Linked DNA regions of Homo sapiens. The protein of the gene in region 1 interacts with the protein of each later gene in a biochemical or structural test. Each region holds a gene or a part of one and is shown in the gene's direction. Other genes may lie near its edges.

Evidence for each region. Proteins that work in one complex are often made in the same cells at the same time.
Region 2: the proteins of RNF146 (region 1) and LNX2 interact in a test that uses a peptide from one of them, tested with the Homo sapiens proteins (one large-scale study listed by IntAct).
Region 3: the proteins of RNF146 (region 1) and PARD3B interact in a test that uses a peptide from one of them, tested with the Homo sapiens proteins (one large-scale study listed by IntAct).
Region 4: the proteins of RNF146 (region 1) and TNKS form a complex in vitro, tested with the Homo sapiens proteins (3 studies listed by BioGRID and IntAct, with this or other methods).

The regions. Positions count from the first base shown.
Region 1 is NC_000006.12:127,282,636-127,287,025, forward strand, and holds part of RNF146 (E3 ubiquitin-protein ligase RNF146), read left to right. Parts: exon of another isoform or gene 1-2,713; intron 2,714-3,414; exon of another isoform or gene 3,415-3,542; intron 3,543-3,980; coding exon 3,981-4,390. UniProt on the Homo sapiens protein: E3 ubiquitin-protein ligase that specifically binds poly-ADP-ribosylated (PARsylated) proteins and mediates their ubiquitination and subsequent degradation. May regulate many important biological processes, such as cell survival and DNA damage response.
Region 2 is NC_000013.11:27,551,030-27,554,529, reverse strand, and holds part of LNX2 (ligand of Numb protein X 2), read left to right. Parts: intron 1-1,090; coding exon 1,091-1,322; intron 1,323-3,500.
Region 3 is NC_000002.12:205,297,475-205,300,974, forward strand, and holds part of PARD3B (partitioning defective 3 homolog B), read left to right. Parts: intron 1-3,055; coding exon 3,056-3,262; intron 3,263-3,500. UniProt on the Homo sapiens protein: Putative adapter protein involved in asymmetrical cell division and cell polarization processes. May play a role in the formation of epithelial tight junctions.
Region 4 is NC_000008.11:9,747,912-9,751,411, forward strand, and holds part of TNKS (poly [ADP-ribose] polymerase tankyrase-1), read left to right. Parts: intron 1-112; coding exon 113-301; intron 302-3,500.

The DNA.
Region 1 (4,390 bases):
CCTCTAATTATCTTATACTTGCATTACTACCTGGATATTCTAGTTTCCCTTTCGCCATACCTCCTCCTGCATTACCAAACTTTCCTCCAACCTGCTGTTCAAATGGTCTGGAAGCTACTAAACTGGCTGTTATTTCCTGACGTAAAACCTTTCAGTGAACTCCTCTTGTCTCATTAGTGGTTCATATGTGGACCAGCTTCATAGAAATCCTTAAGCCCCTTGAAATTATATGTAGGATTGTTCCCTTTTTGTGTGTCTGTAATTGGATTCTAAATTCAGACTTTAAAAATCTGATTTTTAATATTTGGAGTTTTTATTGCAAGCTAAAAATTTCTTGAATACTACACATACTAAAGATCTTTTTTGCTTATAATAATTTTGCCTTTCATTTGACTAGTTGTCCAAGAAGTTTCAAGGAAATCTGAGTTCTTGGAGATTTCCACTAACTCTGCCCATACCCCTCTATATTTTGTCTTCTTGAGAAGAAGACTTAGTATTAATAGACTCTTATTAGTCTGGCAGAAATATTTCACATGGTTTATCTATTGGAAGAAGGGGATTTATACTTAAAAGTTGGAATATCACATGAAGAATTCAGTAAAAACGTCTTTGAAAGTAAATGATGTATTATACTTATTAATAGAATTGGACTAACGTCACTCCAAATTTCTGTGTATTAAATTCTTAGTTTAGTAAACTGGAAATAAATTCCCTTTTTCAAAATTAGAATTTTCTGAGACATTTATGAGATAGGGAATACCTCTTTTGATTAGCATTAATACTTGCTCTACACAAAGGGAGGGGAAAAGCTTTCTTATTTACATATTGGTATGATCATCTGCATACATTTAGTCTCCCACCTATTTTAAGATCATTGGAACTGCAAAACAGAGACTGTGTAGGGTAGATTAAAATGGTTTTTTAAAAAGCCTTGAAGTATGTCTTATAGGTAGACTAGCAGTTTGGGGTTACTTTGTGTCTATCTTGTTACACATTTTATCTCTATCTTACTTATTGCATGTGCCTCATTCAGAATTAAATAAGAAATATCACTAAGTTTTTCTGCCCATTTGTTAGTTGGTGATAGACTAACAGTATACTTGATGGGCTAAACAGAATCAGAATTTATAAATTGCTATGGCAAATTGATAGTTAAGAGTGCTTCAGATGAAATAATGACCATTTAGCTGTCTGGTGTCCATTGTTTGCAGATTAACTTTGTCCAACTTCACTTCATTCTGATGATGGAACCAAAATACCTGCACAAACAGGATTGTTTTGCCTTTCCAATTATGTTATTATAATTCATGCCTTCTCCTGGGATGATTGTAATTGCTTTCTTAGTTTTGAAATTATGTGTTTTGGTTTATTCATAAATGCAAGAGTAAGAGTCATGCAAAATATTAATCATATTAAGTAGGGTGGAGGATAATGTTTTTAGGTTGGAAACTTTTTTTTCTGTAGATAAACGAGCTGTATGTGATGGAAAACTGACTTCTTGGGCCCATTTTACTTAAAGCAAATACAATAGGTTTGGAATTATGTATTTAAAAGCATGGCATTGGTCCACGTGACATGTTGGGTGTCTTGTTTTCATTTTACCAGACTCTGTTTTTATTTATGTTTTCAGTTTATGATCCTGTCCTTTGTTCATAAGGTACTTAGATGGTTTAAGATGTAGACTTCTTATATGAAGATGTTGCTGTTGTTTTTCCAAAGTAATGGTGGTCATCAGCCCATTTTTCTATTTAGTCTCATGAATAGAATCATGAGTAGAATCTTTCTTAAATTATTACTTGTAAATGGATCACTTTCTTGTTTTCTTTTTCTTAATTGGAGCTTTAAATAAATATGGAACTTGGAACAAAAAGATTTTCAGGAATTTTATGGAAACTAACTTTTTTGACCTAAATCGAAAGGGATGAAAGTTTCTGAAAACCTAACAAAATGTGTGCACAGCCAATTCTTTTAGGGGAGGAAATAGGCAGGGAATGTGTAATTGGCTATTTTAAAAACATATGCCTTCTTTTGTAACTTATTGTTGTTTCAAGTTACAAGATCTTTGAAGGCAAGTGTTTATCTCAAAATATTTGAAAGCTTTTATAGTGCTTAACATACTAAGACGTCCTATTAGGGTTTACTTAGAACAAGCTTATCCAACTTGTGGGCCACATGTGGCCCAGGATGGCTTTGAAAGCGGCCTAACACAAATTCATAAGCTTTCTTAAAACATTATGTGATTTTTTTTTTTAGCTTATCAGCTATCATTAGTGTTAATGCATTTTATGTGTGGCCCAAGACAATTCTTTTTCTTCCAGTGTGGCCCAGGGAAACCAAAAGATTAGACACCCCTGACTTAGAACTTTCCATAGGTTAGGAGAAAGTTGTACTTTCTTGATGTCTATAACCTAGAATTTCTGGTAAAGGAATTGATTGGAAATGTTATTAAAAGTTGAAAATAATTTGGAAATTAAACATTTTAGTGATCAGTTCTTCCATTGAGACTGTGTTGGTTCCTTTACTAGATATGTGCCATCTTTTTAAAAACTTACTGTGTTGCTTCCTTTACTAGAAAATTGCCATCTTTTTGAGCCTTGTCTATTGAGGAACCAAGAACACAGAAAAGGCAGTAAAAAGAAAAAAAAGGATTGTTTGAAGATTGAATGTGCTGTGATGATAGCCTAGGATTATTGTTTTTCAATTTTTGATGAGCGTAAGCATTCTTGTTGACTATATCTTTTGTAACTACTGACCCATTTAGAATGGCAGAATTAGCTGGCAGAGAGATTGTCATTCATTTTAAGCTTTCAATCTCTGACATCTTCATCTTTATTTCTCAGTCTTTTTTACTTATCAGTGGTTTACTCCATTATTTTCTCCCCTTTTAAAATGTCTTTTTTTTTTTTTTTTTACCATGGGGAAAAAAATTAGATGTTTCCTTGGCAGGGCACAATAACACAATAAGGCTTTCATGACTTAACTTTTGATTACCTTTACACCTTCATCTCCTGCTCTTCCATTGCTTGTATGACTATTTGACTCAGTGTCTTGCATGTGCTTCTGCCTGGAATCTGCTCCACTGCCCAGCCCCTCTGAATGAACACTAAACTTTCTAACCTATGTCCATCCTCTCATCTCTCTCTTACTGTTATTTTAGTAAGTATGTTAACACATTTTGATTACGCAGGAATCAGGCCATATTGTAATTATCTGCATGTATGTTTCCTTATTTAACAGAGTAGTTGTGTGTCTTATTTATCTTTAGACCCATCAGTACTTAGTATTGTATCTGGAACATGGCAGGTGTTTAGTAAATGTTTATCTGAATCAATAAGGCAGAAATTATAAATTTTATGTCAGTGTTTAAGCTAGATACATCCAATTTGACAAATCTTTTTTCTTCTTCCTCTTCAGGGGATCTTCAATATTCATGTTATTTTCTCCTTTGGTCTTATATGATTGTTACCTTTATGAAGCTTTAGTGATTACAAAGCACTTTTTTTGTCCATTTTTACCTGAGCTTTGTAAACTCTGATTTGCAGGTAAGGAAATTTAGACTAATGGTTTAACTGAGTGCCTAAGAGCACATAATTAATAAAGGACTCTAAAACTCAGATTTTTAGATTTCTTGTCTAGCATTCATTTCACTGTATAATAGCTGCCATGATTCAAGGTATCCTTTTCCCCTCACTGGATGCAGCTTTTCATTATATAGTTCTTCAGTGTGTTTCTCCAGGGCTGATCTGTTAAGTGCACTGATGGAATTTTTATACATTCCCAAGGTATGTACAAGTAGATGCTTACAAAAAATTTTCATCGGTTGGAGAGTTTTTCCTCTACTTTCATCTTCATATCCCCATTGTCTAGTATGTGGCTTGCATATAATGCACATCATAGGTGGTTAGTGTTTTCATAATTGTTAAATTAAGATATTGCAAGAATTAAAACATGACTTTAATATTATATGTATTTTTTCTTAGGATGGCTGGCTGTGGTGAAATTGATCATTCAATAAACATGCTTCCTACAAACAGGAAAGCGAACGAGTCCTGTTCTAATACTGCACCTTCTTTAACCGTCCCTGAATGTGCCATTTGTCTGCAAACATGTGTTCATCCAGTCAGTCTGCCCTGTAAGCACGTTTTCTGCTATCTATGTGTAAAAGGAGCTTCATGGCTTGGAAAGCGGTGTGCTCTTTGTCGACAAGAAATTCCCGAGGATTTCCTTGACAAGCCAACCTTGTTGTCACCAGAAGAACTCAAGGCAGCAAGTAGAGGAAATGGTGAATATGCATGGTATTATGAAGGAAGAAATGGGTGGTGGCAGTACGATGAGCGCACTAGTAGAGAGCTGGAAGATGCTTTTTCCAAAGGTAAAAAGAACACTGAAA
Region 2 (3,500 bases), on another chromosome or scaffold:
ATATTATGCAAGTAAAAGAAGCTAGATATAAAAGACCATGTATGATTCCATTTACATGAAATGTTCAGAAGAGGCAAATCTGTAGAGACAGAAAGTAGATTAGTAGTTGCTTAGGGTTGGGGAAGGGAAATGATGGGTATAGAGGGAGTGATTAAAATGTTCTCAAAATTACTGTAGTGATGATTGCACAACTGTGAATATATTAAAACCATAAAATTATGTTCTTTAAATGGGTGAATTGAATAGTATGTGAATTATTTCTCAAGCTGCTATTAAGTAAAGGTTATTTGTCCAGTTGTAGTATTGGGGTAATTTTATTTCCTTTTTGTTCTTTTATTGTGTTTTCTAAATTTTCTACAATGAGAATGATTTGCTTTAATAATCTGAAAAACTGATGATAAATTGGGAGAGATAAATTTCTGTAGACTTTGTAGCACAAATGTCTGCTTCCTACAAAACTAATCCTTTCCTAACCTTTGATATAATCCTCATTGCCATTTTTTATTATATTACTTAGCAGAGCAACAGTTCTTTTCTTCCTGAAACAGGGAAGACATTCAAACCGCAAGTTTCATTTCTTCATGTGGGCCCAGGGATAGCTTCTTTGTACATATTCTGATGTTTGCCCTGAATAAACTATACAGGGCTGTCCTTATGTATAGAACTGTGTAAATATAAAGCAGAATACATTAAAGATTTATTTCTAAGGGCAAAGGATCAAGTGATTTTTGATTGGACAGAATTGTAGAAATCTCTGAAACTCTTAAGAAGAGAAATGAACCTGCCCAGGGCCTGTACACAGCTAAACTCAGACTGATGATTCGAACTTCCAATCATGTCAAGGTGCCTCAGGCCACACTTTTTTCTATGTATTATGACATTATTTTAAAATTATGGAATGTTTTCTGTGTATTGGGTTTCTTCTCAATATTATAAAAATTACAAAGAAATAATAAATGCCATTTATTATTATACCTTATCTCATCAGAGTTGGGGGAACTAACTTTTGTTGCTTAGTTTATAAACAACAAGATTTGCAGGTGAAAACTCAGTGGCTCAGCTCATTTTTCTTGTTTCTTCATCTGAACAGGTGATGTGTTGCTAAATATCAACGGCATTGATTTGACCAATTTAAGTCACAGTGAGGCAGTTGCAATGCTGAAAGCCAGTGCCGCGTCCCCTGCTGTTGCCCTTAAAGCACTTGAGGTCCAGATTGTTGAGGAGGCGACTCAGAACGCGGAGGAGCAGCCGAGTACTTTCAGCGAAAATGAGTATGATGCCAGTTGGTCCCCATCATGGGTCATGTGGCTTGGGCTTCCCAGGTACTGAGCGCTTTCTTGTTGCTTTATGGAAATCATAATCATGCTTGCAGCCCTTATCAGTGTGTAGCATGATAAATTTACTCGTTGGGATAAAAAAAAAAGCTTTAATTCAGTAAAATAGCAACATCAAATCAAATTACAAAAGAAAAGGATAATTTTTCTTAGGATATTACACTTTAAAAGGTACACAAAGAAAGCAGTTGTGTCCATTCCTGTCAAGGCTCCTCAGTGGGCTAGCCATGAGATTGGATAACCCAGCCTCTTGCTTAGAAAAGTTGTCGTTTACCAGCACTCATTCCGCTATGTGCTGAGACTTCATGCATTTTTCATCAGAAAACCCAGGCCAATCTTGGGGCTTCCCCCCATCCCAGAAGCCTTTCTTAACACCTTTTTAAATTTATTTTAACTCTCGCTAAAAAGGGTGGCATTTAAAACTCAATTTTTATTGGATACAAGAGTCTATTAAGCCAAACCATTAGTGTTCAAGAATGGCTGCTTCACTTTTATTTTTTATAAATGTGACCAGCCAAGATATGCTGTGGTTGGTCAGTGTCGGGGTCACAGAAGCACATGGAACCTCCAGTGGCATCCCAGGGTACATTCCTTTCCGCGGTTGTTGTTTGACATTTGAGATAGGAAGAATGTGTTCCTATCATCATTTGTTGTCTAATCCGTTTAGATTCTTACCGTACCTAAGAATCCTAAAACTAAGCTATGAAGCATTTTGACTTTTGACCAAGTATGAAAATTATTGATTCTTTAAAATAAAACAATAAGAATTTGCTATTTTCTGAGCCACCTGACTCGTGGGATACATTTATAACAACAACTAGCATTTATATAGTGCTTCAAGGCGCTTTGCGCATAGTGGGTGAGAAGTGGTCTACTCGTGCAGTGGCTGGGCAGCACGTTGCAGACCTCAGAGCTTGTCTGCACCTCTAATGATGGGGCAGGCAGAGAGCAGCAGCGTCCTGGAGAAACTTGGTCCCTAGTGCTTCCTTTAATTTTCCTTATCTGATATACCAGTCTAGTTTGGAGGTTGGCACATTGACCTCTTTTTTTCAGAGCATTTTCTGGTGTGCCAGGCATAATAGCAAAGATTTTAGATGAGAAATACACAGTATAGTAAAATCTGTTTTTGAGCCCACCTGTGTTGAAAGAATACCTGTCGATAAAAGGCTACTATTCAATGTGTGTATGGAGGTCTCTGTTGAATGCAAAGCTATATTCAACAGCCATGTGTCCTCCTCAGTGGGTGCAGGTGGCCCCTATATGCAGGTTTCACACGGCATAGTGTAGCAGCTCTGCTCTGCTTTTCGTGAAAAGGGAGATTCTTCCACTGCGATTTGCTGGGGTATACAAGAAAGCTGTTTGTTTCAGAAGATGCAGCATTAGGAAAATAACCAACACTGTCCCTTTAAATCCAGGCCAGTGCATGGGACCTTGTTCCATCCCAGAAGCCTTTCTTATCAGTGAGCTAGGAAACTAGATAAGATGAGAAGTTCTGGCATGGTAAACATTGCTTTATAGAATTGGCTTTATTAAGAAATAATAAAACAGGATTTTTAAAATTAATTATTTATATTATGTATATTTATTATTTTATTATGGATTTAAAACAGGAAACCTTGCCTTCCGTGCATTTAGATCCAGTTTCACCTAAAGATGAAAGATATTTATTTATTATGAAGAGTTTTTTTTTCCTTATCATTTAGGTGTGCTTTTTTTGTTTGTTTTGTTTTTAAGATTTTACTCACTGCTTGTTCCCAAATCCATAGAGCTATGGAAACATAAGTACATTTTTTTTTTCTCCCTCTCTGGACACATCCTGCAATCTGGCAGTAGCATTCTAACTGTAGTTTCTCAGTGTCTATGATACATTTATATATGCATGTGTGTGTATAGATGTGTATATATTTTCTTTTTTTTTAAAGATGGGGTCTTGCTCTGTCACCCAAGTTGGCATGATCATAGCTCACTGCAGCCTCAAGCTCCTGGGCACAAGCCATCCTCCTGTCTCAGCCTCCCAGTAACTGGGACTACAGACACATGACGCTGTACCCAGCTTGTCTATGATAGAAAAAAAAAGAAAAAGATTTTTTGTTAGTGTTTTTCAGATTGATTTCTCTATTTTGGCAATTAGAGTCTCCCTTAAAATGAAAACATCCTAAGTAAAGG
Region 3 (3,500 bases), on another chromosome or scaffold:
TGTTGGAATTTAACACTGATGCCTTTCAATTGACATTATAATCCCTTACACAGCAGGTAACCTTGACCTTCTGTAGGAGCCCTCAAACATATGAAAGACATGGGGATCCCTGGAGAAGGTGCTTGTCAGAGCCCCCAGTTCAGTCAGTTCACTGTACCTGTAAATCCTTATAAGGACTTTCCTGATTTTGGTTCTCTTCTCTAACATGAGTCCCTACTCTACAGCTACATTCTGTGCATTCTCCAGGAATAAATAGAATTTTTTTTCCAATCCTGAAAACTCCAGAGTCCACATTTACAACCTAAGGACTCAACCACCCTTTTTGCTTTTAATATTACCATGTATTACATCCAATAGAGTTAGGTTGTAATATTGCCCAACATCAGTTAGTACTTCTACTTTGTGACTTCTATTTATATAGAGTGAATTAATTGCCAACTCTATTAATCTTGCAAAATCCATGAATCCTTAATGTTCAGTTTGCTTAGAATGAGGAACAGTGTATTTGTTTCTTCTTAGCTATGACTTCTTGCTGAGCTTCACATGAGCTCCTTTTAGATAACGTGCCTTCTATCTTGGACGATTTATTCACTTTCATGTTCCCTGGAATTTATTGCTAAACGTTGACGTGAATGCTTACAGTTTGGGCTCTAATGTAATCTCCTGAATGGCAATTAATAAATAAAAGATGGTTACTATTGCTGACAGAGAATCAGGGCTTTCTCAGATAGTTTTCATCTTCATGTTTTCACTAAACTTCATGTCAGACATCCCTAGGGGCTGATATTATAAAATATTTTCTGTAAACTCCAAAGCTTTTACTATTGCTTCTATACACCCAAACCTCTGTGATGCCTTTTGTTTTCTTGTCAGAAATCATCTTATTCAATTTCTGTTTCTTCAACTTATCTTCCTTCCTGGGAATATAAAAAATATGCCTCTTTCTGGATTTAATAGTGACATATCCTCAGTATTTATGACTTGCAAGTAACACCTGAAATTTGTCCCTGAAATTTTTTGTATTTTTTTTTTTGCTTAGTCTTATCTCTGTTGCATTTATTGAATATACTCTGTTGAATTTACTGAATACTGAATTGCACTTACCCTACATTAATAGCCAGTAGGGTTTATAAAATCTAGTGTTTATTGTCATCCTGTATATTGTTCAAAGTGCAAAGTTGTCTCCTATAAGTTAATGATGAAACTATAACGCAACATCCAATTTTTGCAGTTTGCCTACTTGACGAGGCTCCAGGGTTAATCTAGCCTAATATTCTTATTTTAGAAATGAGGACAATGTAGGGCAGTTTAAGTTGTTTGACCATAATCAAATAGAGGGTGCAGAGCAAATACATCTTTAGACAGTAAAGTACATGGTACACAGCAGAAAAGCTGGAACTAGGCTGCCTCGGCCCAGCTCCTGGTCTGGATGCTTATTAAGTGTTTAACTTTAGACAAGTTATGTCAATGCTGTGTGCCTCAATTTCTGAATCTGTAAAATGGGGCTAAAAGTAGTACCAGTAGCACAACTATAAGGATTATAGTAAGTTACTGTGGGTGAGGCATTTAGAATAGTGCTTAACACAGACTAAGCACTCCATGCATTATTAGCTATTACGATTATTCATTATGTTGACTATTTTTAACACGTTCGGATCATAGGTAAAGGTGTGTATTGCTATTTCACTTCACATAGGTATATATATACATCAGTGCTTTTTTGTACTTCTTTTGTATTCCTTAATGCTGTGTGCAGCTGCTAGTAGTAGTGTTCATAGTGGCAGTGATAATAGAAGCAAAAATAGTGATGATAGTAATAAAAGATAGTGCCGTTTATTGAGCCTTGCTAGGTGCTAGACATTGAAGTAGGTACTTTACATACATAATTCTTAATAGGTACTCTTGTCTATTGATAAATGACACAGTCGTTTTTTCCCAGAAATGCAAGTAGACTTCATGACAGTAGTCTCCTTCGTAACTGGAAAGGAACATGAGCTGTGGCCCTGGTGGAAAAGCTTTGACTGTAGAGACAAGAGCCCTGATAGAATTCCTTCTGTCTTAAAGATAATCCTGCTAATATTATATATTATATATATATATATAATATATATATATAATGCTGCTAATATTTATATAACCTAATCCTGTTATTGATAATTGAGAGACTAGCTGGGGGTGGGAATGGAGGTCAAGGAATGGAGTGGGAGGGGGCAGGTAGAGGGCAAGGCAAACCGCACAAATGAAAAACATTATATACCAGAAAAGCAATGATTCAAATTCAGTTGTGCTCTATATTTTCTGTTTTATAATTTTATATTGCATTAAAAGGTTGCCTCTTTTCTAGATACCAAATAGGAATACATTCAGAACTATAGCATCGACACAGAAAAGTTGTTTTCTTTCTTGCTTTGCTTGCTTGATTGATTGATTAAATAAATGGCAGTTACCATACATTAATAGCCAATAGGGTAAGGTAAAGTGTTTAATTAGAAAAATCACAGTCACTTCAATGTTCTTTTATTTCCATGCCCAGTATGTTCCTTACTAATCATATGAGCAACCATGGCAATGATAAAAGCTGTCAGGTGTGGGAGTGCTAGGACGATACTGGAAGAGAAGCTCTCGTCATGTTAGGTGCTTGGTATGTTTGTGTGTGTGTCTGTGAGTATGCATGTGTGTATGTGGGTATTCTCACATATGTGAAATCACTCTCATTCACATACATAGTCTCTATAAATAGCTACAGCCTTTCAAATTCATAGGTGTGTGTGTATATGCCTATAGACACACATGCATATACACTTCTGCATAGAGAGAAATGTACCTATAGTCATATTAAATTTTATCACAGCTTTAGAAAAGGAAACAGAGGCTCAGAGAAGTCAAACCACTTGTTCAAGGTTACAAAAGGTGGCAAAGCTGGAGTATAACCCCAACTCCCACCCACTTAACACCCCTTTTTTGGGATGTCCAGACAGAAATATTCTTAGAACAATAGCATTACACCACACTGCCCCATTAGAAGAGGGGTGACCTTTTGCCCTTTCTTTTCCAGAATCTCCAAGCAAAGATTTTGGTCCAACTCTGGGTTTGAAAAAGTCCAGCTCCTTGGAGAGTCTGCAGACTGCAGTGGCCGAGGTCAGGAAGAATGACCTTCCCTTTCACAGGCCCCGGCCGCACATGGTTCGAGGCCGAGGCTGCAATGAGAGCTTTAGAGCAGCCATTGACAAATCCTACGATGGACCTGAAGAAATAGAAGCTGGTAGGATGATATGCTTCCTTAAATGGCTTCTTCATCTCATTATTATCTGCAAATCATGGGCAAGAATGTGTGCTCAACTACAGAAAAAAATGATTTAAGGATCACAATTATATTTTTGATATTAAAAGTAATTCATTTTCCTGATATGTTTTGCCCTTTGGCTTAATGAACATGGAATTGGAGAACACAATATGCAATTTATTTTACAGTGCAAGGCTAAATAAATGTTCTCCTTCAC
Region 4 (3,500 bases), on another chromosome or scaffold:
ATGAAAATGGAGATACAGAGGAGTGAATTGTTAAATAAAAACAGGTATACACAATGGTGCTTTACCAGATGATCTCATTCTTAACTCTTTGTATCCTTTTCTTTTTTTTCAGCATGTTGACATAGCGGCTTTATTGATAAAATACAACACGTGTGTAAATGCAACAGATAAGTGGGCGTTTACTCCCCTCCATGAAGCAGCCCAGAAAGGAAGGACGCAGCTGTGCGCCCTCCTCCTAGCGCATGGTGCAGACCCCACCATGAAGAACCAGGAAGGCCAGACGCCTCTGGATCTGGCAACAGTAAGTCCTCATTTCAGATACTGATTATTGTTCCTTCTACTTTCACAGATGACATCAGATTCTCGGGTTCACCAGCTTACTTTTAGTCGTGTTTATTTCACTTAGAACAGAGATCTTCTGAAAATTTTTGAAGTTCACACTTTTTCTATGAAAATATAATTTAAAACTCTTAAGACAAACTAAACAGTAAGTTAATTTAATTTTTTGCCATTCTTAGCCTGCTGGGAAAACATGGATCTTAAGAAAACATGTTTTTAGAGTGTACCCTCAAAGAATTATATTTAGTAAAATATCTTGTACCTTCTATATTTGGCATGTTATTGTAGAGCAACTAATGTTCATGATAATTTACCTAAGTCTGTGAGATAGTCAAAGAAAAATTAACTCTGGGCAGTATTATTTAACTGCAAAGTTAAGCACTGCATCATCTTCCGTGAACTTTCTGAAAACCAGGGAGTTACTGTATAGTCACAGTAATTTCTAATTTTTAAGCCAGAAATGTTTTTTCAAGTTATGTTCTGTTTCATTTATTGATTGCTGCGTAACAAACTGTTTCAAAACACCCAGTGGCTTAAAATAATAATGACTTATTATTTCTTATGATTCTGTATGTTGGCTAGGAGATTCTTCTGGTCTTACCTGGGGTCACTTGTGCAACTGCATATAGCTGGTGGCTGGGGCAGAAACATAAAGACGGCTTCATTCATATGCCTGGGGCCTTGACAGATACAACTAGAAGGCAGGGGCCTCTCTAGTCCCATGTGGCATCTCATCATTAAGTGGTCTTGTTAGAATTTCTTCACAGAATAATTGTATCTCAAGAGGGAGAAAGCAGAGGCTGTCATTGTTCTTTAAGGCTAAGCCTGGAACTGACATGCTGTCACTTCTGCCACATTCTGTTGTGCAAAGCAAGTCATGAAGTCAGCTCAGGTTCAAGGGATAGGAAAACAGATTCCACCTTCTTTGAAAGGAGAAGCAAAAATTTCGTGGCCATCTTTAATCAGCCACAGTCTTCCCTGTGAATACAAATTAAATCTATTTTTCCCACATTCAAATTACACTCACCTGCCACGTGCTCCCCCCACCAACAGGGGGCAGATAGTCATCACTGGGTCCTTAGCAATTCTAAAATTCAGCCAGACACATGTTATCAGGGCCATCTACTCTGGAGTTAGGGAATGATCCCTGATTAGGGCCCAGTTCTGCTCCCAGGGAGTGGTTCACTGTGGCTGTCTTTTTTTTTCCTTTTTTTTCTTTTCTTTTTTTTTTTTTTCCCCCTTAAGACACAGTCTGGCTATGTCACCCAAGCCAGAGTGCAGTGGCGTGATCATGGCTCACCACAACCCCAACCTCTTAGATTCAAGCCATCCTCGTATCTCAATCTCCTGAGTAGCTGGGACTACAGGCACATGCCACTATGCCTGGCTATTTTTTTTGTTTTTACTTTTTGTAGAGACAGGGTCTTGCTATGTTGCCCAGGTTAGTCTTGAACTTCTGGGCTCCTCCCTCAGCCTCCTTCCTCAGCCTCCCAAAGTGCTGGGATTACAGGTGTGAACCACTGTACATAGCCTCTGTAGCTCTTGGCCATGCCCTCTGAATTATCCTTCTCTTTTCATAAGAAATGGATCATATTTACAGCCAAGTGGCTTTCTCAACCTGTTCCCTGCTCCTAGAAATTTTCGGGACCCTGAGCCTTTTATCATTTTGATCTACCTGTCCCTTTTAGTCCAAACTAGTACAACTCTTCCTTTGTAAACTTTTGGATTTCCCATCAAATTACACACCACTCCATCAGCCAAAAGCTCCACCCACAAATCTTTTCAAGACAGGTCCCTCTCTAACATGGAATCCAAGTAAAGGTGCAGTGGGACAATGCCCATAAGATCCTTTGAAGCTCTTTCATCTAGCCAAGGGAATTCACAAGGTACCACCTTAGAGGTTTTTTAAAGATTTTGAGGTAATATATCTGTACCTCTAGTTGATTTTTATTCTGAGGCCATGTTTTCCTGTCAGCACGCTGGATTTGACCTTTGGCCTGAGGCTGTGCCTTACTTGAAGAAACTTTTGCTGATGGAGAGGCTGGGAATGGTGAATAATTTTGTTTTCTAAGCTAGCAAATGTTAGGTGAATACATTTCCTTAAAGAGAACTGGACAGTTCCTTTCTCTCTTCCTGTACCTTATCATGGGCAGATAAACACACCAGTCCAGTTGACAAGGCAGAATTTGTTCTGGAAATTTCCTTAGCCAAATTTACAAATTTATTTAGGTTTACGTTCTACCTTCCGTAAGACCTCCTGTGGCAGCGTTGCCAAACTTTCTGCTACACAGCATTAGTCCCCTTTCTCTCGCCTTCAGTAGCACTTGCCTATCTATCTTCCATTCACAGCCTCCCTCAGCAATAACCAGGCCACCCTTCACGCCTCCAACCAAAGCCACATGTCCACCAGCACCCCACTTCCAGGTACTGGTGTGCATTTCATTTCTCTATTGCTGCCCACTAAGCCACCCCCAAACCCACTGAGGGTTTAACGTGACAATTTATTATTTCTCACACGTCTGGGAGTTGACTGGGCTCAGCTGGGTGGTTCTGGTTTTGCAGTTACCTGCACCTGGGAACTCAGCAGAGGCTGGAGCTTCCAAGATGGCCTTTCATCCCGCAGGGCTCTCCCTGCATAGGATCTCACCACTCAGTAGTCTAGCCCAAACTTCTGTACAACATGGCAGATGGCTTCTAAGAGAGTAAAAGTAGACACTGCCAATCCACTTAAAGCCTGGCTCAAAAGCCTCAGAATGTCACTTCTTCTCCATTCTATTGGTCAAGACAACTCACAGGGCAAACCACATTCGGCGGGTAGGGGGCAGAAATTCAAGGGGAGGCATACATGACGGGAGGAAGGAATTGATGGGTGGCTGTCTTTGGAGACTATCTCCCGCATACTCGAAAAGCAGTTGCATCTAATACTTAAAAACTGAAAAGTTTATGAATAAATGAGCTAAATTAAAGTGTCATCCCTTTGAAATTTCACCAGATGTTAATTGTACATGAAATTATTAAGTGTGAAGTAAATAACCAGATTATAGCTGTTTAAACGTAAACAAAATATAGTAAACACAGAAATTTTTTCTAAAGAAGGGTGACAGTTAACACTGAAAGTGCTTTTTTTTAAATGAAAGAAGAAATATCTTTAAAAATTACAT